Homo sapiens: one gene and its partners. The protein of the gene in region 1 interacts with the protein of each later gene in a biochemical or structural test. Each region holds a gene or a part of one and is shown on either strand. Other genes may lie near its edges. The genes, in order: CLSPN, TIPIN, USP29 and CSNK1G3.

What was found.
Region 2: the proteins of CLSPN (region 1) and TIPIN form a complex in vitro, tested with the Homo sapiens proteins (one study listed by BioGRID).
Region 3: of the proteins of CLSPN (region 1) and USP29, one has a biochemical effect on the other in vitro, tested with the Homo sapiens proteins (one study listed by BioGRID).
Region 4: of the proteins of CLSPN (region 1) and CSNK1G3, one has a biochemical effect on the other in vitro, tested with the Homo sapiens proteins (one study listed by BioGRID).

Annotation. Positions count from the first base shown.
Region 1 is NC_000001.11:35,738,741-35,746,319, forward strand, and holds part of CLSPN (claspin), read right to left. Parts: intron 6,823-7,579; coding exon 6,711-6,822; intron 4,837-6,710; exon of another isoform or gene 4,791-4,836; coding exon 4,715-4,790; exon of another isoform or gene 4,502-4,714; coding exon 4,401-4,501; intron 790-4,400; coding exon 625-789; intron 518-624; coding exon 396-517; intron 1-395.
Region 2 is NC_000015.10:66,353,686-66,360,710, forward strand, and holds the start of TIPIN (TIMELESS-interacting protein), read right to left. Parts: upstream 3,001-7,025; 5' UTR 2,954-3,000; exon of another isoform or gene 2,458-2,953; intron 437-2,457; exon of another isoform or gene 313-436; intron 1-312.
Region 3 is NC_000019.10:57,122,704-57,130,282, forward strand, and holds part of USP29 (ubiquitin carboxyl-terminal hydrolase 29), read left to right. Parts: intron 1-1,335; 5' UTR 1,336-1,436; intron 1,437-5,956; 5' UTR 5,957-5,972; coding exon 5,973-7,579.
Region 4 is NC_000005.10:123,570,946-123,578,524, forward strand, and holds part of CSNK1G3 (casein kinase I isoform gamma-3), read left to right. Parts: intron 1-2,447; coding exon 2,448-2,596; intron 2,597-4,783; coding exon 4,784-5,018; intron 5,019-7,579. UniProt on the Homo sapiens protein: Serine/threonine-protein kinase. Casein kinases are operationally defined by their preferential utilization of acidic proteins such as caseins as substrates. It can phosphorylate a large number of proteins. Participates in Wnt signaling.

The DNA of each region.
Region 1 (7,579 bases):
TATAGTTTTGCTTGCCATTTGCCATCTGAAACTCGACAAATATGCATTGTAACTGTTTGCTTTTTTTTTTTTTTTTTTGAGATGGAGTCTCGCTCTGTCGCCCAGGCTGGAGTGCAATGGCATGATCTCTGCTCACTGCAACCTCCGTCTCCCGGGTTCACGCAATTCTCCTGCCTCAGCCTCCTGAGTAGCTGGGATTACAGGCGCGTGCCATCACAGCCTGCTAATTTTTGAACTTTTAGTAGGGACGGGGTTTCACCATGTTGTTCAGGCTGGTCCTGAACTCCTGACCTTGTGATCCACCTGCCTCTGCCTCCCAAAGTGTTGGGATTACAGGCGTGAGCCACCATGCTCAGCCCGTAACTGATTGCTTTTAAAGACAACAACCAAGATACCTATGTTTTTCCATCGAAACTTCCTCATTCGCCCAGGACCATCGCTGTGCAGATCCCCATCAGCAAGGTACCTCTCTTGGTATAAACGTAGCTGTCGCTTATCATCATCCAACATAGTTTTCCTGCAACAGGAGAAATAAGGTGTTCAAAACAAGGACCATTCTGGCTGGTTACAGGGCTTGTCTTAAGATGTACCCTATTACTCAGAAGGGCTTATTGGGATACTGACATGTGTATTTTCTTGATTTGACTCTGCAGTTCCTCATCAGAAGGAAGTACTTCATCAATTACGTCCTCTTCATATTCATCAATTTCTTCCCCATCATACTCATCTTCGCTTCCCACATCACTTCCTGACACCTCTGCCTCATCCTCCAGGTATTTCCTCAACCTCCTAGAAAGCAATTTTGAGGATTAGAAAATGCAACAATGAATATACTCACAGAATATGGAAGCAAAGAAAAGCAGAACAGAGTCACTTCTAATAATAATAAACATAATACATTTGATAATATTTAAATTTTTTTGTAATAGTCTCCACTTATGATGGTTTGACTTAATGATTTTTCAACTTTACGATGACATGAATGTGATACGCACTTAGTATGCTTCTCGATTTACGATGGAGTTATATCTGGATAATATGAAAGTGCATTTTCAACTTATGATGGATTGATCAGGATATAGTCCCATTGTAAGATGTGGAGCATCTGTATTTAAAAGTTGATCACTTAATATGTCTTGTGTGCTAATAACTGTGCTTTACAGGCATTAACATATTATCATAGGAATGGGTACTATTATTCTCTTCATTTTACAGTTGAGGGAATTGAGCCTCAGAAAGATTACATTTACCCAAGGTCACATAGCTAGAAGGTAGCAGAGCCTGGATTCAACTTAGATTGGGTGATTTGAAAGCCAGAAAACTCTTAATCTCTTTTACATGTATTAGAATACCTGCTGGAAGGTTCAAACTATTTCATTTTGCATTTGAGCACACCAGCTTTAAGAGACAAACTAGAGATGGTGTGGTGTAGAAAGGTAATAAACTGGGATCTTCTTACAGCCTAACAAATCTTGACCCCCACATCAGAAGGAAGACTAAGGCTCAGAGCTCCTGGTAATCAAAACGACTAGTTACTTCTTATGACTTCAGCTCCCCCGGAGAATAAATCTGGTGTCACCCTGGATTCAAAGTCACCTTGGTCCCATGTGGTCCAAAATGGCAGAAGTTTGGTGGCTTTCTGAAAACTGATTTTTATCGAAGACCTATACTGTATTTTCTCTTTTTTTTTTTTTTTGAGATGAAGTGTCGCTCTGTCGCCTAGGCTGGAGTGCAGAGATGCCATCTCGGCTCACTGCAACCTCCACCTCCTGGGTTCAAGTGATTCTCATGCCTCAACCTCCCGAGTAGCTGGGATTACAGGTGCGTGCCACCATGCCTGGCTAATTTTTGTTTTTTTAGTAGAGATAGGGTTTCACCATGTTGGCCAGGGTGGTCTTGAACTCCTGACCTCAGGGGATCTGTCCATCTCAGCCTCCCAAAGTGCTGGGATTACAGGCATGAGCCACCACGCCCAGCCTATACTGTATTTTCTTAAAGCTAAGTTGTTCTAAATCCTAGAGTTCCTGGAAAATTCCTTCAGAGGCCACTAGTCACTAAGTTTCCCAAACTTCCCACTTACCATCTTTGAACAGTTCAACTTTTATCTGTCATTCTTTAAAAGATTTTATTTGAACAAAGAGCTCTGCAGAGAAGAACCACTACCTTAGAAAAATCTATGGATAACCTAAAGCTGTATGAGAGTTAATTTGATAGGTGATAAATTAGAACCCAAAGTGAATCTTAATAGAATGAAATGATGGGATAAAAGCAACCATATAAATCTAATAGGGATCAATATGATGTCCTATATGTGAATTCCAAATCATTCACATACAATATAATATTAAATACCTATTAGAATTATCTTTATAAAACTTTTTTTAACATCATAGGAAAATGTTTCTGGATATGCTAAGTAGAAAAAAAAAGATGCAAAATTATACATATAGAAAGATTGTACAAATCTCAACTATATAAAAATATATGCATAAAAAAGATTAAGGGGAACAAACTAACTTTCATTTATATCCTGGATGGTGGACATGGATAAGTTTTTATTTATATCTTTCTGTATTCTTTTTTTGCGGGGGTCGGGGAGAATGGAGTTTCTCTCGTCGCCCAGGCTGGAATGCAATGGCACAATCTCAGCTCACTGCACCCTCCACCTCCCGGTTCAAGCGATTCTCCAGCTTTGCCTCCTGAGTAGCTGGGATTACAGGCACTGGCCATCACGCTTGGCTAATTTTGTATTTTTAGTAGAGACGGGGTCTCGCCATGTTGGCCAGGCTGGTCTCGAACTCCTGACCTCAGGTGATCCACCCGCCTCAGCTTCCCAAAGTGCTGAGATTATAGGCGTGGGCCACTGCACCCAGTTTGTATTCTTTTAAATATCCTAAAATAAATATTTTACTTTCATGACCAGAACAGCATATCAAAAAAATGAGTTGGGCCGGCCAGGTGGGGTGGCTCACGCCTGTAATCCCAGCATGTTGGAAGGCCAAGGCGGGTGGATCGTGAGGTCAAGAGATCGAGACCATCCTGACCAACATGGTGAAACCCCGTCTCTACTAAATATACAAAAATTAGCTGGGTGTGGTGGCACGTGCCTATATTCCCAGCTACTCAGGAGGCTGAAGCAGGAGAATCGCTTTGAACCCGGGAGGCGGAGGTTGCAGTGAGCCGAGATCATGCCACTGCCCTCCAGCCTGGGCGACAGAGCGAGACTCCGTCTCAAAAAAAAAAAAAAAAAAAAAAAAAAAAGCTGGGCCTGGTGGCTCATGCCTGTAATCCCAGACTTTGGGAAGCAGAGGCAGGAGGATCACTTGAGGCCAACAGTTTAAGACCAGCCTGGGAACAAAGCAAGGCCCCATCTCTACAAAAAATAGAAAGAATTAGCCAGGTGTGGTGGCACATGCCTGTTGTCCCAGCTACTTGGGAAGCTGAGGCAGGAGGATTTAAGTTAAAAAGTGGCAAACTATTAACTGACTGTTAGGGGAGATTTCACCTAATCTAAGTTGAATCCAGCCTCTGCTGCCTTCTAGCTATGTGATCTTGGGTAAATTTAATCTTTCTGAGGCTCAGTTCCTTCAACTGTAAAATGAGGAGAATAATAGTACCCACTCATAAGATAATTTTTTTGAGATGGAGTCTTGCTCTATCACCCAGGCTGGAGTGCAGTGGGGCAATCTTGGCTCACTGCAACCTCCGCCTCCCATATTCAAGCAATTCTCCTGCCTCAGCCTCCCAAGTAGCTGGCACTACAGGCGCCCAGAACCATGCCTGGCTAATTTTTGTATTTTATTTTGTATTTTGTATTTTTAGTAGAGAGGGTTTCACCATGTTGGTCACGCTGGTCTCAAACTCCTGACCTCAAGTAATATGCCTGCCTTGGCCTCCCAAAGTGCTGGGATTACAGGCGTGAGCCACTGTGCCTGGCATAAGATAATATGTTAATGCCTGTAAAGCACAGTTATTAGCACACAGGACATATTAAGTGATCAACTTTTTTTTTTTTTTTTTTTTTGAGACAGAGTCTCGCTCTGTCACCCAGGCTGAAATGCAGTGGTGCGATCTCGGCTCACTGCAACCTCCACCTCCTGGGTGCAAGCGATTCTCCCTGCCTCAGCTTCCTGAGTAGCTGGGACTACAGGCACCTGTCATCACATCTGGCTAATTTTTATATTTTTTAGTAGAGACAGGGTTTCACCATGTTTGTCAGGATGGTCTCGATCTCTTGACCTGTGTCACCAAGACCAGGCTGGTCTTGAACTCCTGACCTCAGGTGATCCGCCTGCTTCAGCCTCCCAAAATGATGGGATTACAGGCGCAAGCCACCATGCCTGGCCTAGTGACCAAATTTTAAATACACCTGAAGGAATGGACATATTAATAACACGTACATTTGCCTTTTCAACTTCTCAGATCGCTTCAGGAGTTCTTCTTCATCATCATCTTCATGGTCTTCCAGTGCCAGATCATTACCAGAGTCACTGTGTTCATCCTACAAAATCAGCATCATATCCAAATTAAGCAGAATAAAATGCGTCCTCAATGAAAAAAGGATTTATAAACATCTGCCCAAATACCTCATTCTAGGAAATTGTTTCTGATAAGATGCCAAACTTAGAATTCTCAAGAACTGAGGGGAAAAAAACACTTGAGGGCAGCAATACATGGAGCTCAGTTATGATTACTTTGTTCCCTTCATACTCACCTCATCACTATCAAACTCATTATCATTTGAAACAAGCCGAAAGTCTCCAAATTCCTCCTCCTCGTCTTCCTCTTCCCTAAAATGTAAATCAATGAATCAATAAATAAGTTGTTGAAAGCAAACTACAAGTAGTCAGCCAAGTTATGAATTAAAAAAAATTTTGTGTGTGTTAATTTTTTTTTTTTCTCTGAGACAGTCTTGGTCTCTTACACCACCTGGAATACAGTGGCACCATCTCAGCTCACTGTAACCTCCACCTCCAGGGCTCAAGTGATCCTCCCACATCAGCCTCCTGAGTAGCTGGGACTAGAGATACAAGCCACCATGTTCAGCTAATTTTTGTATTTTTGTAGAGACAGATTTCACCATGTTGCCCAGGTTCATCTTGAATTTCTGGATTCAAGCAATCTGCTTGCCTTGGGCTCCCAAAGTACTGGGATTATAGGTATGAGCCACCTCGCCCAGCCAAATTTAAAACTTTTATTATCACCAATAATCTCTTCAATAAACAGGAAGAAAATTTTTTAAATTTTCAATTGTGGTAAAATACACATAATATAAAATTTGCCTTTTTAACGATCTTTCTATAGTTCTGTAGTGTTAAGTACATTCATATTGTTAAGCAATCTCCAGAACTCTTTTCAGCTTGCAAAACTAAAACTCTATACCCATTACACTCTCCATTTCCTTATAACCTCAGTCTCTGGCAACCACCATTCTACCTTCTGTCTCTATGCATTTGACTACTCTAAGTATCTCATGTAAGTGGACTCATACAGTATTTGTCTTTTGGTGACTGGCTTATTTCTTTTAGCATAACATTCTAAGGTTCATCCATGTTGTAGCAAGTGTCAGAACTTCTTTTTTTTTGAGACAGGGTCTTGCTCTGATGCCCAGAGTGCAGTGGCACAATCATGGCTCAATGCAGCATTGACCTCCCAGGCTCAAGCAATTCTCCCACCTCAGCCCCCTGAATAGCTGGTACTGCCGGCACACGCCTAGCTAATTTTAGTATTTTTTTTATAGGGATGGGGTTTTGCCATATTATCCAGGCTGGTCTCAAACTCCTGAGCTCAAGTGATGCGCCCACCTCAGCCACCCAAAGTGTTGGGATTACACGTGTGAGCCACCATGCCCAGCCAGAATTTCCATTTTAAGTTGAATATTCCTTTGCATATATACCGCATTTTGTTTACCCATTCATTTGCCAATAAACATAGGTCGCTTTCATGTTTTGACTACTTACTGTGAATAATGCTGCTTTGAACATGGGGGTGCAAATATCTGTTCAAGTCCTGCTTTCACTTTTTTGGGGTACAGACTAAGAAGTGAAATTGCTGGATCATATGGTCATTCTATTTTTATTTATTTATTTTGAGACGGAGTTTTGTTCTTGTTGCCCAGGTTGGAGTGCAATGGCATGATCTCGGCTCACTACAACCTCTGCCTCCCGGGTTCAAGCAATTCTCCTGCCTCAGCCTCCCAAGTAGCTGGGATTACAGGCATGCGCCACCATGCCCAGCTAATTTTTTGTATTTAGTAGAGACGGGGTTTCACCATGTTGGTCAGGCTGGTCTCGAACTCCTGACCTCAGATGATCCACCGTGCCTGGCCTCTATTTTTAATTTTTGAGGAGCCATCATACTTTCCCTGGCAGCTGCACTATTTTACATTCTCACCAATAGTACACAAGGTTTCCAATTTCTCCACATTCTCACTAACACTCTTGGGGTTTTTCTGATAAAAGTCATCTTAATGGGTGTCTCACTATGGTTTTGATTGGCATTTCTCTATTAATGATATTAAATAGCTTTCATATTCTTGCCTTTTTTACCCTGTTCTCCACCAAAGCATTATAATTTGCTTACTAGGCATATATGAGACTCAAATCCACTGCAAGATTCTCAGAAAAGGTGCAAAGCCCTTAAGATGATCAGTTATTTTGATTTTATCAAAAGGCCAGGCCTTCCCAAATTCCCAGCAATCTGAGACTTACTTGTCTGTGGGAAAAGAGCCTGAGCAAAGAGCAAGTGCTTCTTCCATTGGATCACCCATGCTGCTCTCCTTCTCCTGTTTATTTAACTCTGATGAGGCTGGAGTGGAGGCATCTACATCACAACAAGGAAAAGATGTGTCACCAAGGAATGATAGCTTTATACTCTTTTCCCAGCCATCTAAAGTCATGCCAGCTCGATACAGTTCTAAGGTAAGCTTGCCAAGAAGAGCCTACCATCTATTCATTCAACAAATCCTTATTTAGTGCTTACTATGTGCCATATGTGCCAGGCCACCAGGGATACAGTAATGAACAAACCACTATCCCAGGTCTCATAGAGCTTATGTTCGATCTAGCAGTTGTGTGTATTGGGGGCAGGGAACAGGAAGTAAGTTAACATTTATATGAAATTTATTATACATCAGACACTGTTCTAAACTTTGTACATACATTAATCATAAATGATATATGGGCAAAGCTAAAGCAGTCTTTTTTTTTTTCAAGACTTTTTTTTTGAGACAGTCTCTCTCTGTTGCCCAGGCTGGAGTGCAGTGGCACAATCTCGGCTCACTGCAACCTCCACCTCCGGGGTTCAAGCAGTTCTCCTGTCTCAGCCTCCCAAGTAGCTGCGATTACAGGCACGGGCCACCATGCCCAGATAATTTTTTGTATTTTAGTAGAGACGGGGTTTCACCGTGCTGCCCAGGCTGGTGGCGAACTCCTGAGCTCAGGAAATCCCCCGCCTTGGCCTCCCAAAGTGCTGGGATTACAGGCGTGAGCCACTGCGCCCGGCCTAAAGTAGTCTTAAGTTGATACTTTACCACTCTAAGAAAGTAAGAGTTCTAAATATCAGGGCACTAAGCAGTGAA
Region 2 (7,025 bases), on another chromosome or scaffold:
TTTTAAATGTGTTTACATATTGGTCTTCTAGGTAAGGTTTCCTGAATGGGAAATTATCCTCAGGTTGATAACTCGAAAGAATGTTTTTCAGTACTGCCTTACTTAACTTCTCAATAACAACTGACACTTTTGGTCAGTTTTTTTCTGGGAAAAATGTTTACCTTAACTTCTAAGACATGCCGGTAATCCCAGCAGGAGGCAGAGGCAGACGGACCATGAGGTCAGGAGTTCGAGACCAGCCTGGCCAACACAGTGAAACCCCGTCTCTACTAAAAATATAAAAAAAATTTAGCCAGGTGTTGTGGCACGCACCTGTAGTCCCAGCTACTCAGGAGGCTGAGGCTTTCCTCCCTTTCTGGGCACTCCTCCTGGATTTTCTTTGCAGGTTTATCTTCTACCCCGGCCATTAAGTATCCAAGACTCCATCCTAGGGCTTCTTCATTCATTTATGCACAGAGCTTTAATAAGTACTGATTTATAGATGACTCCCTGATTTTTATCTCTACCCTAGGCCTTGACTCTGCGATCCAGATCACTACTTCCCATTTTACACTTCCTAAACGCCTGAAAGGCACCTGTAACTCAGCAGGTACAAAACCAAACTTCTAAATTTTCCTAACTCATTAAATGACATCTATCCAGCTATGCAATTCAGAAACCTACAAGTCATCTTTAGCAATTCCTTCCCCTATCCCACAGATCCTGCCCATCTTATTTCCTAAATATCCCTTGAATCTGTCTATTTCTCCTTATCTCTATAACCACTTCCCAACATTTCTTGCTTGCATTACTCCACTACTCTCATCCACTCGTCTCCTTCAATTGTCCCTATTACATCTAGACTGAATCTGAAAATATAAAGCTGATCACCTCACTTGGATTAAGTATTTCAATGGTTTCTGATTGCTCTTAAGATAAAGACAAAACTTCAAGGCCCTGTGTGATCCAGCCTCTTACTACCTCACCAGTCTCACTTCACACTACTCTATGCTTTTTCTTTCCTTGAAAGAGCTATATCCCTCAGGCCACTGGCTCTTTACAAATACTATTTCCTGTCTTGAAAAAGCTATTCCTTGACTCCTAATATCTTCCAGATCTCAACTATCACCTTTTCAAAAGTTTACCTCAATTTCTCTAAATCCTTCTTTAGTAAGCATTCATAGTGTCAAGTACAAGTGTCATGGCACTTATCCAGTTTCAATATCAGGTTTTATTTATACAGTTATTTATTGTTCGTCTCCCAAACTAGACTGTAGCTCAAAAAGGGCAACGAGGTTAAGTCTCTCTGTGTTACACAGCTGGAACCCCAATGCTGTTACACAGCAAGTGCTCAATATATATCTTTTTTTTTTTTTTTTTTTTTTGAGAAGGAGTCTCGGGCTCTGTCACCCAGGCTGGAGTGCAGTGGCGCGATCTCTGCTCACTGCAAGCTCCGCCTCCCGGGTTCTCGCCATTCTCCTGCCTCAGCCTCCCGAATAGCTGGGACTACAGGCGCCTGCCACCACGCCCGGCTAATTTTTTGTATTTTTCATAGAGACGGTGTTTCACCGTGTTAGCCAGGATGGTCTCGATCTCCTGACCTCGTGATCCGCCCGCCTCGGCCTCCTAAAATGCTGGGATTACAGGCGTGAGCCATCGCGCCCGGCCCCAGGTGCTCAATATATATTTGATGAATGATGGAATGCAAAAAAAAATTCCAGTTTCCCCAAATTGGAGTTAGACGATCTTTAAAATCTCACTAATTCTAAATTTCGGTTACCATAAATATAAAAGCAAAGCATCGGCTGGGCGCGGTGGCTCACGCCGGTAATCCCAGCACTATGGGAGGCAGAGGCGGACGGATCATGAGGTCAGGAGTTCGAGACCAGCCTGGCCAACACAGTGAAACCCCATCTCTACTAAAAATACAAAAAAAATTAGCGGGGCGTGGTGGCACACGCCTGTAGTCCCAGCTACTCGGGAGGCTGAGGCAGGAGAATCATTTGAACCCAGGAGGCGGAGCTTGCAGTGAGCCGAGACCGCGCCACTGCACTCCAGCCTGAGCGAAAGAGCGAGACTCCGTTTCAAAACAAAAACAAAGCATCAATTCCTGATCATGACCCACTGTAACTTCAAGCAAGCTACAAGAATCTATACTAGGGTTCAGACCTTTGAGGCTGACAGCGAGCTTTGAGTTTGATGACAGTACCTAAAATATATTAAGTGTACTCAGGAACTGGCCAAGCATGGGGTGGGGCTTGTCAGGAAACTGGTATTTCTTTCTTCTATTTGTAGTGAATAAGATGCTCAATAGACGACTTTTACTCCTCGTCAATGGTCGCATAACTGTCTCTTTTTAGACACTTATGAAATTGTCTGAACTTCCTCCTCTACTTCTCCAACTCCCAGAAGAGTGAAGGTAACAAATGTTATGTCCAAACCACGGTTTGTTCCCAGACCCTGGTTTCCAATGCCCACCTCTTTTCCAAGAAGTCCAAAGAGACGCCCCTCATCGCAAAGGAAGTGCTACCGTGCTGCCTCGATGTCCCCCTTGGGTGCCATCCCTGAAACATCGAACCTCCCATACCTCTTCTCCAGCCGTCCCCCTCATCCTCGTTCCCCGCCTACCCTCTCTTCAACTTCATTCATTCATCCAACATTCGCTGGGGGATTTCTACATTGACACGCCCCGGACAGAAGCCTGGGGTAAAGATGATCAGGAACACGTTCCCTCCCGCTAAGCGGCTTGGCAGAGTAAGAGGCATCCCAAAACCTAAGCAACCGGGACACGCGCCCACCTCCCCGCCTCTCCAGGCCGGGTCAGGTCGACCCCCCAACCTCCTGACCCCCTTCCTGCGACAATTAGGCTTTCCCGCTAGTCTGTCTGGCTCCCTGGCTCTTCCATCTGGCTCCCTGGCTAGTCCGACTCCCCTCTCCCCGCAAGAACTTCATTGGCCCGCCAGCCAGCTCTCACCTCACGCAGAAAACACGGGACACAGCGCGGACCTCGGCGTGCAGACTAAGCGCGCTTCTCGCGATACTCGGGAACTCCTGGGGCGAGAAGGGCCCGCAGCGTTTGGCGCCAAATCCGTGCGGGGGGCTGGGCGGAGCCTGCAAAACCCGCCTCTCAGGTTCCGCCCAGCACGCCGGTCCCGCCTTCGGTCCCACAATTTCCGCCCTACTGAATTCTTCAGAGGAACTCAGTTAAGCCTCCTTATTTGCATAAAGTTAATACTTGTTATTCTGGGGTTTTTCTTTTTTTTTTTTCTTGAGACTAAGTCTCGCTCTATCACTCAGGCTGGAGAGCAGTGATTCGATCTCGGCTGACTACAGTCTCTACCTCCCGGGCTGAAACGATCCTCCCACCTCAGCCTCCCTTCCCCGACTAACACCACCACACCGAATTTTTGTTTTAATGGGTTTTTGTTTGTTTGTTTGTTTGTTTTGCAAAGACGGGGATTAGTTGCCCAGGCTGGTGTCGAACTCCTTAGCTCAAGCGATCTTCCCACCTCAGCTTCCCAAAGTGCTGGGATTACAGGCGTGAGCCACTGTGCCCGGCACTTTAAACCTTGGAAATAGGTCTCGGTTTTTGGAAAACTGAGTTGTGGGAGGAGGAAAAAGGACAGAGGCAAGCAATAGTGAATAAGAAATTACCGCTTCTTCAGAGTTCATAGCAGAATGCTTCGAACTCAGAGTTTTATGAATTGTTTATTGAATAATAAGCTGAGAAAAGAGGTGGTAAAGAGAGGAAAAATAGGGCTGAACATAGACACTGGCCAGGTGCGGTGTGGCTCGCCTGTAATCCCAGCACTTTGGGAGGCCCAGGCAGGCGAATGGCTTGAGCCCAGAAGTTGAAGGCGGCAGTGACTAGGATCGCACTGCTGGCGATCCAGCTGGAGATCCAGTCTGGGTGACAGTGAGATCTTGTCGCAAAAAAAAAAAAAAAAAAAAAAAAAAAAGCGAGAGAGTGTGAATGTAAACAAAAAAAAATGTCAAAAATATGTTACTTGGGGCCGGGTGCAGTGGCTCACGCCTGTAATCCCAGCACTTTGGGAGGCCGAGGCGGGCAGATCACGAGGTCAGGAATTCGAGACCAGCCTAGCCAACGTGGTGAAACCCCATCTCTACTAAAAATACAAAAATTAGCCGGGCGTGGTGGCGCGCACCTGTAATTCCAGCTACTTAGGAGGCTGAGGCAGGAGTATCACTTGAACCTGGGAGGCAGAGGTTGCAGTGAGCTGAGATCATGCCATTGCACTCCGGCCTGGGCGACGGAGCAAGACTCTGTCTCAAAAAAAAAAAAAGTTATTTGGTCAGACTTGGTGGCTCATGCCTGTAATCTTAGCACTTTGAGAGGCTGACGCAGGAGGATTGTTTGAGCCCAGGAATTCAAAACCAGCCTGGGCAACATACTGAGACCCTGTCTCTATTAAAAAGAAAAAACATTTTTTAAAAAGTTAACTTTTCCATTTTTAAATAGTAAGTCCAAATATATTTGTATTTGTTTGTATACACACAAACATACACACACAACCTCAGAAAAATATATAACTAGAACCTATGCAATGAAAGTGGCATATGGGATAGAGTGGGATGGGAACTTAACTATAATTTTTTTTGAACATACAAATGTATTAACTATTCAAAAAACTAAATTTAAAAATGTTATCTGAAGCAAATATAGCATCATTAAGATTTGCCAAACCTAGAAGATAATTAGGGAATACTGGCAGCATTATTCTCTCCACTTTTCTTTCTTTCTCTCTGTCTTTTTTTTTTTTTCTTCTTTGAGATGGTCTCACTTTGTTGCTGAGGCTGGAATGCAGTGGTGCGATCACAGCTAGAATCAGGTGATCCTCCCTCCCCAGCCTCCCAGGTAACTGGCACTACAGGCTCGCACCACCACACCCAGCTAATTTTTTAAATTTTTTGTAGAGATGGGAGTTTCGCCATGTTGCCCAGGCTGGTCTCCAACGCCTGGTCTCCAGCGATCCTCCCCTCCTCAGCCTCCCAAGGTGTTGGGATTACAGGCGTGAGCCACCGCACCCAGCTACTTTTCTGTAGCTTGAAACATTTTATTAAAAATTTAAAAAGTGAAGCCAGGTGCAGTGGCTCACACCTGTAATCCCAGCACTTTGGGAGGCCAAGGTGGGTGGATCACCTGAGGTCAGGAATTCGAGACCAGCCTGGCCAACATGGTGAAACCCCGTCTCAATAAAAATACAATAATTAGCCAGGTGTGGTGGGTGCCTGCCTGTAATCCTAGCTACTCGGGAGGCTGAGGCGAGAGAATCGCTTGAACCCAGGAGGCAGAGATTGCAGTGAGCAAGATCACACCACGGCACTCCAGCCTGGGTGATATAACTAGACTCTGTCTCAAAAAAAAAAAAAAATTTAAAAAACACTGGGTCCCGGATGTCGAGGCTGCAGTGAGCCATGATCATGCCACTGCACTCCAGCCTGGGTAACAGAGTGAGACCCTGTCTCAAAACACACACACACACACACAGACACACACACACACACACACACACAAAGATAGAAAGTAAATTACCAATTCTGTCTAAAATTATGTGTGCACATGTATCTATGTGTCACATTTCCTTTATTTTATGATTTTATTTCTATACTTGTGAGATAATATATATTAATATTAAGCAATTAATAAAATTAACATAAATTTAGTTTTTTTTGTTTTTGAGACAGATTCTTATTCTGTCACCCAGGGTGGAGTGCAGTGGTGCAATCTTGGCTCACTGCAGCCTCAATCTCCTGGGTTCAAGAGATTCTCTGCCTCAGCCACTCGAATATCTGGGATTACAGGCAGGCACCACCATTCCCGGCTAATTTTTGTGTTTTTTGTATTTAGTAGAGATGGGGTTTCACCATGTTGGTCGGGCTGGTCTCAAACTGACCTCAAGTGATCCATCCACCTCAGCCTACCAAAGTGCTGGGATTACAGGCGTGAGTCACCTCACCAGGCCTAAAAGTTACATGAATTTGAATGAGAAATGTCCATTTCAGTAGTCTGAATTGTTGAGACAAGAGGCATTCTTTTAATTATCCAGGTAAGTTTATATACTATACTTTTTGACTAATAAAGTAAATGTAAAAGCACTCTGAGAAGTTAAAAAAAGTTATACACCTTCCCCACGCCGCCCCCAGCCTGCCAAAAACGAACAGAGCAGATACTGATACTCTTGAAGGTTTAAATCTCAGTTCCGTCATTTACTGGTTGGTGACTTTTAACTCTGATTCAGTTTCCTTTTTTTATTTTTGATCACCTGAGTTGGAGTGCAGTGACACAATCATAGCTCACTGTAACCGTGAACTTCTGATCTCAGGTGATCTTCCTAACTAGGCCTCCCAAAGTCCTGGGATTATAGACATGAGTCACCCCGTCTAACCCAGTTTCCTCATAGGGTTGTAAAGAGGAGTAAAAAACCATATTTAATGGTATGTTACTGTAGTATCGCAGGTACTTCAGAGTCTGAGGCAGGAGGATTACTTGAGCCCAGGAGGTCAAGGCCAGCCTGAGCAACATAGGGACATCCTATCCCTAAAAAATAAAAATAAAAGTAAAAGACATTAATACATTTTATATAACTATCCATATGATTTTTGGAATGTTTCACCCTTTCAGAAAATGTAAAGATTTTGGCCGGGCATAGTGGCTCACACCTGTAATCCCACCACTTTGGGAGGCTGAGACAGTAGGATTGCTTGAGTCCAGGAGTCCCGGACCAGCCTGGGCAACATGGTAAAACCCCATCGCTACAAAAAAGCAGGAAAAGAAAATGTAAAGATTTTGTTAACTGTTTGTTGTTTTATCTGAGTTACAACCACAGTTGTCAGTCATTGATATTGTCAATAACTAATTGTCCACCGGATGCAGTGGCTCCCGTCTGTAATCCCAGCACTTTGGGAGGCCAAGGCAGGTGGATCACTTGAGGCCAGGAGTTCAAGACCAGTCTGGCCAAAATAGTGAAACACCGTCTCTACTGAAAAAACAAAAATTAGGCCTGATGCAGGTGGCTCAGGCCTGT
Region 3 (7,579 bases), on another chromosome or scaffold:
GAGGGGATAGTTTTCTGTTTTCTGTGGCATTGGATATTGGCATTTTCAGAAAAGAGCATGCATCCAAAATGAAAATGATGAAGCCTACCTGTCTTTTGAACTCAGCTCAGGGAAAAGCTGATGATCTCTAATTTTTGTGATTCCTCCTTTCATTAAATTTAAGGTCCAGTGAGGGTGAAGTTTCCCTAAAGAGGCAATAATTTATCAGCAGCAACAGGATGAAATGGAGGGGCTTTTCTTCACACTCTATATATTATGTTAGGATCTCTCAGGAAACTGAGGACACATTAATTATAATCATGGAAGATTTTCTGCTTCCCACATGGTTTGCTGGGTTTGGCATAGTATAGCTCATGCCCTACATTGAAGAAATGTGGGCACCCATCAACAGCAGCCATTTCTGATTACACATCCCTGTTTCTTTAGCTGAGTGACTCCTAAAAGTCCCTTAATGTATTAATAATGCATTTGGACCTCAGTTTTCTTACTATGTTAAATGTAATAAAATTGAATATCATATGGTCACTTGCAGAATTAAATGGTATTAAGGCATGTAAATCATATAGAGTGATGTAGTACAACAAACAATAAACCTGTAATAAAAGTCACTAAACTCCCTTCCCTCCCATGATGGAGCCTTAATTTTCTCTATATGAGGCATCCCTGTAGTTTAATATATTCTTAGAATTAGCAATAGGAATATGATGTCAACAATTAATTTTGAGCCATTTTAGCCCAATGACTTATCCTAAGAAGTCGCTATTATTGTTGCCATCCCGTTTTCACTTATACGAAAGTAAGACTCAGGAGGGTTGAGTTTCAGCCTTAGTGTTAGAAAAGCAGTAAGCGGTGAAGCCGGGCTTGGAATCCTGGAAGTTGGAATGTACAATGTGTGATCTCGATGCATCCTCTCTGTAGTGCCTCTTTGTAACAAGAAAAAAATAAAGATACTTAAAGTTCTAGGTAAGCAAAGTCAGAACTAGTCTTTAAGTTAGAGACCCATAAAGTATAAGGTTTCTCAAACAACAAATGTTGTTAGAAGGTCTTGTTGTGGCAGAGTTCCAAGAAAACCAATGAATGTGAAGTCAGTTGATATATTAATCTAATCTGTGTAATTGGGGAGGGGCACTTTTAGGAATGCATTTAGAGATAATCCCATTAACACAGGAGGTTTTCTCCCAGATTAAATTAACGTAAACGACTTTGGAGGAAGGTTGGTTTTCCCAGTTTCTAAGATATAATGCAATAAATTAACATGAAAGATGGTTGGGACTATGTGCAGACTTTTTAAATAAACCTCAGTTTCAGGACTCTGACCTTTTTGTTTCTTCCTAGTAACAGCCGTGGCAGTCAGAGCTCTGCCTGCAGTGTGACCATGGACAGCTCTCCAAAGCTTAAACTTCAGTAAATTGACTCAAGTTTCTTCGGAAAGAACTGTGAGTAGCAAAGGGCAACTTTTTCTGTTGGTTTCATTGGGATTTCACTGCTTTTCCTGAAATTGGAATGTTGGAAGGAAGTAGGCATTCCTCACTGCCTGGGGAGAAATGGGCAAATGAGTAAGGGGAGGGAGCAAATTCAGAGAGATATTTTTTATTTTTTCTGAAACCTGTTTGTGTTTTGAGATGTCTTTCCCTTCATGTTTTTTTTTTTTTCACTCTTCATATTTCCCTTTCTCTGTCTCTCTCCCCACCTCGGTTTTGCTAATTAGCTAGCACAACAACTCGCCATCTTACTCCTTTTCCTTACTCCCTGTTTTTTGTGGGGTTTTTTTTTTGGTTTTCTTTTTTGTTTTTTTTTTGTTTTTGTTTTTGTTTTTTGTTTTTCAGACAGAGCCTTGCTGTGTCTCCCCAGCTGGAGTGCAGTGGCGAGATCTCTGTTCACTGCAACCTCCACCTCCAGGGTTCAAGCGATTCTCCTGCCTCAGCCTCCCCAGTATCTGGCACTATAGGTGCCTGCCACCATGCCCGGCTAATTTTTGTATTTTTAGTAGAGACCAGGTTTCACCATGTTGGCCAGGCTAGTCTCAAACTCCTGACCTCAGGTGATCCACCTGCCTCAGCCTCCCAAAGTGCTGGGATTACAGGTGTGAGCCACCGTGCCCAGACAGAACTTCTTTATTTTTGCCTTAATTTTGTTATTTAACCAGTAGTCATTCAGGAGCATCATATAGAGTGATGTAGTACAACAAACAATAAACCTGTAATAAAAGTCACTAAACTCCCTTTCCTCCCATGATGGAGCCTTAATTTTCTCCATATGAGGTAGTTTAATATATTCCTAGGATTAGCAATAGGAATATGATGTCGACAATTAATTTTGAGCTGTTTTAGCCCAATGACTTATCCTAAGAAGTCGTTATTATTGTTGCAGTCCCATTTTCACTTATGTGAAAGTAAGACTCAGGAGGGTTGAGTTTCAGCCTTAGTGTTACAAAAGCAGTAAGTGGTGAAGCCAGGCTTTCCATGTAGTTGTGTGGTTTTTAGTGAGTTTCTTAATCCTGAGTTATAATTGGATTGCACTGTGGTCTGAGAGCTTGTTTGTTATGATTTCCGTTCTTTTGCATTTGCTGAGGAGTGTTTTACTTCGAATTATGTGGTCAATTTTAAAATAAGTGCTATGTGGTGATGATAATATTGATCTATCTAATATTAACAGGGGGGTGTTAAAGTCTCCCACTATTATTGTGTGGGAGTCTAAGCCTCTTTGTAGGTCTCTAAGAACTTGCTTTATGAATCTGGATGCTCCTGTATTGGGTGCATATATATTTAAGATAGTTAGCTATTCTTGTTGCATTGATCCCTTTACCATTATGTAATGCCCTCTTTGTCTTTTTTGATCTTTGTTGGTTTAACATCTGTTTTATCAGAGACTAGGATTGCAACCCATCCTTTTTTTTGCTTTCCATTTGCTTGGCAAATATTCCTCCATCCCTTTATTTTGAGCCTATGTATGTCTTTGCACATGAGATAGGTCTCCTGAATATAGCACATCAATGGGTCTTGACTCTTTATCCAATTTGCCAGTCTGTATCTTTTAATTGGGGGCATTTAGCCCATTTACATTTAAGGTTAATGTTGTTACGTGTGAATTTGATCCCATCATCATGATGCTAGCTGGTTATTTTGCACATTAGTTGATGCAGTTTCTTCTGTGTCATTGGTCTTTATATTTTGGTGTGTTTTTGCAGTGGCTGGTACCGGCTTTTCCTTTCCATATTTAGTGCTTCCTCCAGGAGCTCTTGTAAGGTAGGCCTGGTGGTGACAAAATCCCTCAGCATTTGCTTGTCTGTAAAGGATTGTATTTTTTCTTCGCTTATGAAGCTTAGTTTGGCTGGATATGAAATTCAGGGTTGAAAATTCCTTAAGAACGTTGAATATTGGCCCCCACTGTCTTCTGGCTTGTAGGGTTTCTGGAGCAATCCACTATTAATCTGATGGGCTTCCCTTTGTGGGTAACCCGACCTTTCTCTCTGGCTGCCCTTAACATTTTTTTCCTTTGTTTCAACCTTGGAGAATCTGACGATTATGTGTCTTGGGGTTGCTCTTCTCGAGGAATATCTTTGTGGTATTCTCTGCATTTCCTGAATTTGAATGTTGGCCTGTCGTTCTAGGTTGGGGAAGTTCTCCTGGATAATATCCCAAAGTGTGTTTTCCAACTTGATTCCATTCTCCCCGTCACTTTCAGGTATACCAATCAATCGTAGGTTTGGTCTTTTCACATAGTCCCATGTTTCTTGGAGCCTTTGTTCATTCCTTTTCATTCTTTTTTCTCTAATCTTGTCTTCACGCCTTATTTCAGTAAGTTGATCTTCAATCTCTGATGTCCTTTATTCTGCTTGATTGATTTGGCTATTGATACTTGTGTATGCTTCACGAAGTTCTCATGCTGTGTTTTTCAGCTCCATCAGGTCATTTATGTTCCTCTCTAAACTGGTTATTCTAGTTAGCAATTCCTGTAGCCTTTTATCAAGGTTCTTAGCTTCCTTGCATTGGGTTAGAACATGCTCCTTTAGCTCAGAGGAGTTTGTTATTACCCACCTTCTGAAGCCTAGTTCTATCAATTCATCAATCTCATTCTCTGTCCAGTTTTGTGTCCTTGCTGAACAGGAGTTGCGATCATTTGGAGAAGAGACATTCTGTTTTTTGGATTTTTCAGCGTTGTTGTGCTGGTTTTTCCTCATCTTTGTGGATTTATCTACCTTTGATCTTTGAGGCTGTTGATCTTTGGATGGGGTTATTGTGTGGGGGTCTTTTTTGTTGATGTTGATGTTGTTGCTTTCTGTTAGTTTTTCTTCTAGCAGTCAGGCCCCTCTTCTGCAGGTCTGCTGCAGTTTGCTGGAGGTCCACTCCAGACCCTTTTCACCTGGGTATCCCCAGCGGAGGCTGCAGAGCTGCAGAACAGCAAAGAGTGCTGCCTGTTCCTTCCTCTGGAAGATTTGTCCCAGAGGGGCACCAGCCTGATGCCAGCCAGAGCTCTCCTGCATGAGGTGTCTCTCAACCCCTGTTGGGAGTTCTTTCCCAGTTAGAAGGCACGGGGGTCAGGGACCCACTTGAGGAGGCAGCCTGTCCCTTAGCAGAGCTGTTGTGCTGTGCTGGGAAAATCCCTCTTATCAGGATCAGCTGCTCTCTTCAGAGCCAGCAGGCAGAAAAGATTAAATCTGCTGAAGCTGTGTGCCCACAGCCACCCCTTCCCCCAGGTGCTCTGTCCCAGGGAGATGGGAATTTTATCTGTAAGCCCCTGACTGGGACTGTTACCCTTTCTTCAGAGATGCCCTGACCAGTGAGGAGGAATCTAGAGAAGCAGTCTGGCCACAGCTGCTTTGCCATGCTGTGGTGAACTTTGCCCAGTCCAAACCTCCCACCCTCCTTAGCACTGTCCAGGGAAAACTCTACTAACGCCTCATTAATCACGGATGCGCCTCCCCCAACCAAGTTCCATCATTCCAGGTCAACTTCAGACTGCTGCACTGGCAGTGAGAATTTCAAGCCAGTGGTTCTTAGCTTGCTGGGCTCCATGGGAGTGGGACCTGCTGAGTGAGATCACTTGGCCCCCTGGCTTCAGCCCCCTTTCCAGGGGAGTGAATGGTTCTGTCTCACTGGGGTTTCAGGCACCACTGGTGTACAAAAAAAAATCAACTCTTGCAACTAGCTCGGTGTCTCCCCGAACAGCTGGCTAGTTTTGTGCTTGAAACCCAGGGCCCTGGTGGTGTAGGCACACAAGGGAATCTCCTGATCTGCAGATTGCAAAAACTGTGGGAAAAGCGTAGTAACCGGGCGAGTAGCATAGTTCTTCACGGCTTCCCTTGGCTGGGGGAGGGAGGTCCCTGGCTCCTTGCATTTCCCAGGTGAGGCAATGCCCCACCCTGCTTCTGCTCGCCCTCCATGGGTTGCACCCACTGCCTAACTAGTCCCGATGTGATGAACTGGGTACCTCAGTTGGAAATGCAGAAATCGCCCACCTTCTGCATTGGTCTCGCTGGGAGCTGCAGAGCGGAGCTGTTCCTATTTGGCCATCTTGGCCCCGCCCCTTTTTTAATTTTAAAAAATTTTATGTAGCGATGAGGTCTCCCTATTTTGCCATGCTGGTTTTGAACTCCTGGGCTCAAGTGATCCTTCCACTTGGCCTCCCAGAGTGCTAAGATTACAGGCGTGAGCCACCATGCCCAACCAAATTTGTATTTTCTCGATGAGCAGTGATGCTGAGCACCTGTTCATATCTCTGTTGGCCATTTGTATATTCTTTCTCGCCTAACAGCTCCCTTGAAAATGCGTGTGCCTCAGTCTATGTCTTCTGGAGAACTGGCACAGCTTCAGAATATTAGCACCCCAAAAGAGTATTTTACTTAGAGCATAAGAAGACTAAAAATAAATCATTATTATATGTGGATGAGGTTTTTCATAAAATATAACTGTTAATATATTCTTGGTTAAAATGCATGTGTGCTTTTCTTCTTTAGGTTACATAAAGAAAGGATGATATCTCTAAAGGTATGTGGATTCATCCAAATTTGGAGCCAGAAGACTGGGATGACTAAGCTGAAAGAAGCTCTCATTGAAACAGTGCAAAGACAAAAGGAAATTAAACTGGTGGTCACTTTCAAATCTGGAAAATTTATAAGAATTTTTCAGCTGAGCAACAACATTAGAAGTGTGGTCCTTAGACATTGTAAAAAAAGACAAAGTCACCTGCGTTTAACTTTGAAAAACAACGTGTTCTTGTTTATTGACAAATTATCCTACAGAGATGCTAAACAGTTGAATATGTTCCTGGACATAATCCACCAAAACAAATCTCAGCAACCCATGAAATCTGATGATGATTGGAGTGTGTTTGAAAGCAGGAATATGCTGAAGGAAATTGACAAAACTTCATTTTACAGCATTTGTAACAAGCCAAGTTATCAGAAGATGCCTTTGTTTATGTCAAAATCACCAACACATGTGAAAAAGGGGATATTAGAAAATCAAGGTGGGAAGGGGCAAAACACACTATCATCTGATGTACAGACAAATGAGGACATTCTGAAGGAAGATAACCCTGTACCAAACAAGAAATATAAGACAGATTCCTTGAAATATATACAAAGCAATAGGAAGAACCCATCAAGTTTAGAGGATTTAGAAAAAGATAGAGATTTGAAACTCGGGCCTTCATTCAATACCAACTGTAATGGAAATCCTAACCTAGATGAGACTGTTCTTGCAACCCAGACTCTCAATGCCAAAAATGGTTTGACATCTCCATTGGAACCAGAGCACAGCCAGGGTGACCCAAGATGCAACAAAGCCCAGGTGCCTCTTGACTCTCATTCACAGCAACTGCAGCAGGGGTTCCCCAATTTGGGAAACACCTGTTACATGAATGCAGTTTTACAATCGCTATTTGCAATTCCATCTTTTGCTGATGACTTACTCACTCAAGGTGTCCCATGGGAATATATTCCCTTTGAGGCTCTTATTATGACCTTGACCCAGCTGCTTGCTTTGAAAGATTTCTGTAGTACAAAGATCAAGAGAGAATTACTTGGGAATGTTAAAAAAGTCATTTCAGCAGTTGCAGAAATATTTTCTGGCAACATGCAGAATGATGCTCATGAGTTTTTAGGTCAGTGTTTAGACCAGCTGAAAGAAGACATGGAAAAATTAAATGCCACTTTGAATACTGGGAAAGAATGTGGGGATGAAAATTCATCTCCACAAATGCATGTTGGTAGTGCTGCCACCAAAGTGTTTGTTTGCCCTGTTGTTGCTAATTTTGAGTTTGAATTGCAGCTCTCCCTTATTTGTAAAGCTTGTGGTCATGCTGTTCTCAAGGTAGAACCTAATAATTATCTCTCCATCAACCTGCACCAAGAAACAAAACCACTTCCTTTGTCCATTCAGAATTCTTTAGATCTTTTCTTTAAAGAAGAAGAGCTTGAATATAACTGTCAGATGTGTAAGCAGAAGAGTTGTGTTGCAAGGCATACATTTAGTAGGCTCTCCAGGGTCCTTATCATTCATCTGAAACGCTATAGCTTCAACAATGCTTGGTTGCTGGTGAAGAATAACGAGCAAGTTTATATTCCCAAATCTTTAAG
Region 4 (7,579 bases), on another chromosome or scaffold:
TAATGTATATAGCATTGTAAAAGCAGGATTTTAGAGTTGGAATAAACTTAACAAGCCTCTCATTCCCTGTTTCTGAACCTTTTCTCCACCTTTACACATGTGAGGGGTAGATATGACAAATACATCTAAGAGTGGCTGTGGTAGGAGTGTCTTTGATTCCCAGTAGCAAGAGGAGATGGGACAAGCGTGTGTGATGTGTGTGTGTTTGCAGGGGGTGGTGATACATACACATTGGGGTGTATCAGAATCTCTGTTTCTGGGGAGGGCACCATGTATGCAGTTTGAATTTGTATCCATTCCTGCTATGATTACACTATCTTTTTTTGTTTGTTTGTTTTGTTTTGTTTTGTTTTTTTGAGAAGGAGTCTTGCTCTGTCGCCCAGGCTGGAGTGCAGTGGCGCAGTCCCGGCTCACTGCAATCTCCGCCTCCTGGGTTCAAGTGATTCTCCTACCTCAGCCTCCCGAGTAGCTGGGACTACAGTGATTACACTAGCTTACATTCCCACCTGCAGATGTTCTGCTGCCTCACTCATATTCATATCTGAGAAATACTTGTCTCATCCAAATCACTAATATTATAATAGATAAGTAAACTGAGGCCCACTTGAGAGGTTGAATGACAAGCTAGCCACACAGCTGATGAATATTAGGTTAGACTAAGAATGTAGTTTTCTTGGTTTTTAGTTCAGTGTTTTCTATTCTGTCCTGCAATGATTTATATTCAAAATAATAGGGTAAATAATAATAATGTTATATTTAAAAAACGTTTTATTAAAAAGAATGAGAAGTTTTCATTAGATTTGTTTTCTCTTTCAATATACTGAAAAAAAATCACTTGGAAGTAAAACTGAGACATTTGTGGTGGAAGAAGTTCATTTTTTCATGCTAATAGATAAATGCAGTGTTAAGTGTCAAACTAAATAATAGGGAGACTTGTCTAAAAGAAAATGATAGTTATTTACGAGTGGGCATTACAATGGGAATATATGTGAGTATATTCAGGGAGGTAAAGGAAGACAAGAGTTTTTAAAGGAAAAATGAGGAGGGTCACATAAGTTGTTTTGAGAGAGTTACCCTTGGCTACAAGGATCATTAACAAGAATGGCCTCAGTCTGAAGTTGGACAGGCAGTTCCTGGGCAGATGTCCTCACAGAGTAATTTTTTGTAAAGTTGTGGTGGCTTTTGTTCCAGGTTGTGGTTTTTGCAGTCTTTTGTGGTAGTTCTTCTTATCAGGCATATATATATATATGTGTGAGAACCCTCCCTTCATCTCCTTCCCTAGCTCTGTTTGTCAGGGTTTTAATACAAGTGACTCTGTTTTGATTCTGACAACTTCCATATAAAGTAAATTGATCACTTACATTTCAGTTTATTGGGAGTCTGTTAGTTCTGAAAATAAAATACAGATGACTTCATATTTGGAGTTTGTATTATTCAGACTTCATATTTGGAGTTTGTATTATTCTATATAGCTTCATAATGAATTATTACTATCTCTTACTGGCTTAAGATGAAAGACTTTATTATCTCACAATTTCTATGGGTCAGGAATACGGGCATGGCTTTGCTGGGTCTTCTGTTTAGAGTCTTACCATGTGGAAATTAAGGTGTAAGCCTGGACTGCAATCTTACATGAGCCTCAGTGCTCTCTTCCAAGTTCACTGATTCTTGTCAGAATTCAATTCCTCATGGCAATAGAACTGTGTGGCCCTTACTTCCTCAAGGATTCCTATCTGGCATGTGGCTCCCTCCACTGCATGGTGGTTTGCTACTTTAAGGCCAGCAGGAGAGTTTCTCTGCTGTTTCCAATATCTCTGACTTCTAGACTATCTTTTTAAAGTCTCACCTGAATAGGTCAGGTCCACCAGGATTCTCTTCCTTCTGATCAACTTACAGTCAACTGATAGGAGCCTTAATTACATTTGCCGTATAAGTTAGCCTGGTCACAATAGTGAGATCCCAGGAATCATGCTCACGTTCAAAGGGAGGGGTTTATACAAGGTGTATAAGCCAGAGGATGGGAATCTTGACAGTGGTGATCTTAGCAGTATGCCTATCACATGGTTATTAAAGCCAGTAGTGACTCTCTTTTCAGTAGAACTGGAATCTCTCCTATGTGCTAAGCCTTTCTCCAGGCCATGGAAATATAAAGCTAAAAAGCCCAGCTTTTGTCCAGTAATAAGGTGGTAGAGAGAAACAATGAAGTACTGTTTATAATGTAATTCAGTCATGCAGCTGCAATAGAGGTGTATCCAGGCTACAATGTGAACATCAAAGAGAAGGTATTGGGAGGTTGGGAGGTTTGGTCAGGAAAAGTATGTATCTGGAAAAAGTGATAGTACTGCTTTAGTTCTTGAAACTATAAAATTTTAAATATCAGTTTTTAAGAGGAAAACCTTAGTATTTAAGATGATGAAATTATTAAATGAGTATTTCTTTTCCCCCAGATGGTATACCTCAAGTTTACTATTTCGGCCCTTGTGGTAAATACAATGCTATGGTGCTGGAACTGCTGGGACCTAGTTTGGAAGACTTGTTTGACTTGTGTGACAGAACATTTTCTCTTAAAACAGTTCTCATGATAGCTATACAACTGGTAAGTAAAATAAGGTATTTGAAGTTGTTTGAACAATTACATGGTTGTTGGTCACAAATTCATATTAAAAGTTTAAAGTTCTGTGATATTGTCTTACAGAGCGTTTGACGTAATACAAATGTTTCTACTTTTCATGTTGTCTTTCTGGGATCCATGTAACTTAAAATAACTGAGTCAAGTATATTTTATTTGTATAAAAACTAATAATTGCTTTAAGATCAAAATGCTCAGTTTGCAAATTAAGTTGTTGCTAGCCATTTCTTCATATAAAAGATGATTACTTCAAAAGAGAACCCTCAGAAACATAGATTTTTTTTTTTTTTTTTGAGACGGAGTCTTGCTTTGTTGTCCAGGGCGGAGAGCGGTGGCGAGATCTTGGCTCACTGCAACCTCTGCCTCCCGGGTTCAAGCAATTCTCCTGCCTCAGCCTCCCGAGTAGCTGGGACAACAGGTGCATGCCACTACGCCCGACCAATTTTTTGTATTTTTTGTAGAGACAGGGTTTCACCATGTTAGTCAGGATGGTCTCGATCTCCTGACCTTGTGATCCGCCCGCCTTGGCCTTCCAAAGTTCTGGGATTACAGGCGTGAGCCACCGTGCCGGGCCAGAAACATGGATTCTTAATTTTGGTAATAGACTTTATGACCTGGAAAAACAAGAGGCAGACTAATGAGAGAGTCTTGATAAACTACTTAGACTTCAGGGAATCCGTTGGATAACAATTAGAGAGTGATTTTAAGGCAGTTTCGAAATAAATGCCAATAGAAGTGTGCTGCAGAAGTCTTAAAATTGTTTTTATTCATTGACTCATTAATTCTACAAATTTATCCTATGGATGTTTTCATAGGTACTTAAAGCTTTATATGAAAGGATGTTTATAATAAAAAAAGGAGAAGCAACCCAAATATGCAGAAATAACAGGGTTAGTTGAATAAATTAATATCCAGAGGAAAATATGCAGCTGTTAAAAAGTGCATATTAAAGATTGTTTTATAGGCTAGGTGTGGTGGCTTGTGCCTGTAATCCCAGCACTTTGGGGAGTCTGAGGCTAGAGGATCACTTGAGCCCAGGAGTTCAAGATCAATCTGGGCAACATAGTGTGACTCTGTCTCTACAAAAATAAAAATAAAAAAAAAAATAAGCCAGGTGTGGTGGTGTGCTTGTGTAGTCCCAACTGCTGAGGAGGTTGAGGCAAGAGGATTGCTTGAGCCCGGAGGTTAAAGGTTGAAGCTGCAATGAGCTATGCGTTCCATCCTGGGTGGCAGAGTGAGACCCTGTCCCTGCCCCCACACACAAAACATCAAAAAACCAACCAACTGCCCCCAAACAAAACAAAGAATATTTCATGACTTTGCAAATGCTCATATCATTAATTAAGAATATATAGACATAGAATATTGTACATTATATGCTGCAAAGTTTGTTAAACAAACTAGAATGGCCTGTGTAGCCATATGTTTACATTGCATTGTTAACCATGATTATCACTAAATGAAGCAGTTTTATTTTCTTATTTGTAATACTCTATTTTATGACAGTTTGTACAATGAACATTGAGAATCTGTAAAATAATTAACAAAAATGAGCTATATTATTAATATTAGAGTTGGATTTCAGACTTTTCTAGCTTTATGATCTTTCTAGCTTCAAGATTAATCATTTTTAAATGTTTAATACCTAGGAAAAAGTAAAGGAAACATGTTATGAAAAAGAAAAAGATACTGAATAGTGCTGTTGTTTTTACTTAATAGTTTAGACTCTTAAGTTTCTTTAATATACTTGTAAAAGTTGCTTGGTTATTGAACTGATAAGGAAGATTATATTGCAATGTTTTGCATATGTCTGCTTATACTTTTGGGTTCAAGGTCTTATATCAATGTGGCTTTTTGATTTTATGAAGTAGCATCCTCTGAAAGTGTTCATTGAATCAGGCTTGCTGATATGAAAGGAATTCATAAAATTCAAATACTCTCGTTTAGCAGTGACCATAACAGTAAAGGCAAAGATTTTAAATTGCAATTTGCTATGTGAAGAATGATAGGCTGACATCATTTTACTTTTAAAGGGTTGAAACAATTTCTGATTTATTTCTTTTGTATGTTTTCATTCTGTCTTGCCTTTATCATACTTGCTTAGGCTAGTCAAAGCCCAAAATAAAACTTCTCTTCTTTTTTTCTTAAACCAAGATTTCTCGCATGGAATATGTCCATTCAAAGAACTTGATATACAGAGATGTAAAACCTGAGAACTTCTTAATAGGACGACCAGGAAACAAAACCCAGCAAGTTATTCACATTATAGATTTTGGTTTGGCAAAGGAATATATTGATCCGGAGACAAAGAAACACATACCATACAGAGAACACAAGAGCCTTACAGGAACAGCTAGATATATGAGCATAAACACACATTTAGGAAAAGGTATGTGTACCTTTCGTAAGTATGGAAGTTTGAACTTAGCAGCTGTGCTAACACTGTGAGTTTTTATTTGTTATGGTTCAGTTTTTGCAGATTATAATAGCTTTTATTATAATTTTCATTTATCACATCTACCTAGAGTTTACTTTCACTTATATTTTAATAAAACTCTTTGAAAGTAAGTTACTATAGAGTAAATGAGTGACAGCTATCTTTACATTCACTGTATTTTTTGTATTTATATAACTTGAAGTGTTCAACTTTGATACAGTTATGGGGATGCATTTAATCATTTCTCTTACAAAATATGAGAGAATACCAAATTTTAACTGAATTCAGTACATGTGGAAATTTTGGATTGAGACCATAGCTCTCCAATATGGCTAGCCACAGAAATAGCAACTAGCCTAATAAGTATAATGCTAACAGCATATACCTTAGAGGTGGGCAGAGCTGGCTTACCTGTATGCTAACTATGACTTCGGACAAGTTTAACCTTTTTAAGGGGTTTCTTATTGGTAAAAAGAGTAAAACAATATCAACTTCACAGGATTTTTTATAGCATTCTTCCTTCACCCAGATTCATATTTATCATATCCCTTAAATCATTTTCATCTGGAACAGTTCCTCAGTCGTTCGTTATGGCTCATGACCTTAATATTTTTTAGGAGCACAGGCTATTTTATAGGATATCTCCAATTTGGGTCTGTTATTTCTTTTTGACTAGATTTGGGTAGGCATTTTGAGCACAAATATCACAGAAGTGATGTGTTCTTAGTGCATCATGTTGGGATCACTTGCTTGGACGATATCTGCCAAATTTCTCTACTGAAAAGTTTCTTGTAGTTAGATTTTGGGATTATGTAAACATGTTGTTCCTCATCAGATTTTTGCCCTCTAGATTTAGCATCCATTGATGATTTTCTAACTCCATTATTTCTAATATTTACATTTCCTTATTTGTCAGTTGATATTCTAATGTCAGCAGAAGCTTTACCTTCTCCCCCAGTTATTGACTTATGTCTATATGAACTTATTAATTCTTATCTTATTTAATGTAATGTATTGAATGCATTATCATTATTTATTCTGATAGCCAAAGGGTTCCAGATTTGGCCACCCGTTGCTCCTTCAAGCTGGCTTCTCTGTCCTTTTGACATGTTCTCATGAATCTTTGAGTACTTTCTTTCTTTTGGTGCAGCAAGTTCTTATAAACAAACTCATCTTGTAGTTTCTCTTCTGCAGCCCCATAATCAGTCCTTTTCTCCAAGAAGTTCTGAATCCTTTTATTGGATAATGGTATTTAGAAACCAAGATTTGGCCACTGGATATGCTCATTACTGTGGTATGTTGTTACTGCCAGGCCCTTTCTGCAGCAGAACTAGGAAATGTTTGTGCATATATGTATATACATACACACATAGAAATATGCCTACATATATACGTATGTATACACACACACAGAGACATACGTTAATATCTGTTAAAAATTTTGAGTTTATACTGATACACTTTTAATTTCAGTCTGTCAGTACAAAATAGTATTTCCCTTTTCTATATTTGTAATTCCATCCCTTTTCCATATTTGTATCTTTTTTTTTAACAGTGAGAAATCTGGCTATCACTACTTACAATATATTTACTTGTTTTTAAAAGCTGAGGATACTCAGAAAGTAGTTTCAGATTGCCAAATGATACCACTTTATATAGCAAGTCTAATAGAATTATAACATTTGTAATTCTTATTTTATTGAAGAGTTTTTTTTTTATTGAAGTAAAATTTACATTGGGTAAAATATACAACATTTGATTATATAATTTGTGAGTATTGATGAATGTGCATACTATGTAACCCACACACTATCAAGATTTAGAACACTATCATTATCCTATAGACTTCCATTTTACCCATCTTAGTCATTCCCCTCCTTTTCTAGAAGCAATCACTGATCTGATTTCTATCACAACAGATGAGTTTTGCTGATTCTATTACTTAATATAAATAGAACCATCCAACTTCTTTTGGTGGGTATAATGTCTTTAAGATTCATTTATGTTGTTGCAAGTATCAGTAGTTTATTCTTTTTTAATGCTAAGTAATATTCCATTGCATAAACATATCACAAACTGCTTATCCATTTGAATGTTGATGGATATTTGGATTAAGTTTTTGACTTATGAATAAAACTTGTATAATATTCTTACAAATCTTTTTGTGGGCATATTTTTCAGTTTGGTCCTATGGCAGGTATTATTTAACTTTATAAGAAACTGCCTGTCTGTTCTCAGGAGTGTTCATACCTTTTTTTATTTCCATCAGTAATGAATGAGAATTTTGTTTGTTTCATAATCTTGACAACATTTAGAGTTGTCAGTCTTTTTCATTGTAGCTATTCTAGTGGCCAAGGGGTAGTCTTTTAATTCCTTGTGATTATTGTTTCTGAGATCTGTTTCATGTATTTATTGGCTATTTGTATATCTTCTTTTGAAAAGTGTGTGTCATTTCATTGTTAATTTACAGAGTTCTTTATATATTCTGGGTATAATTATTTTGTCATATATAT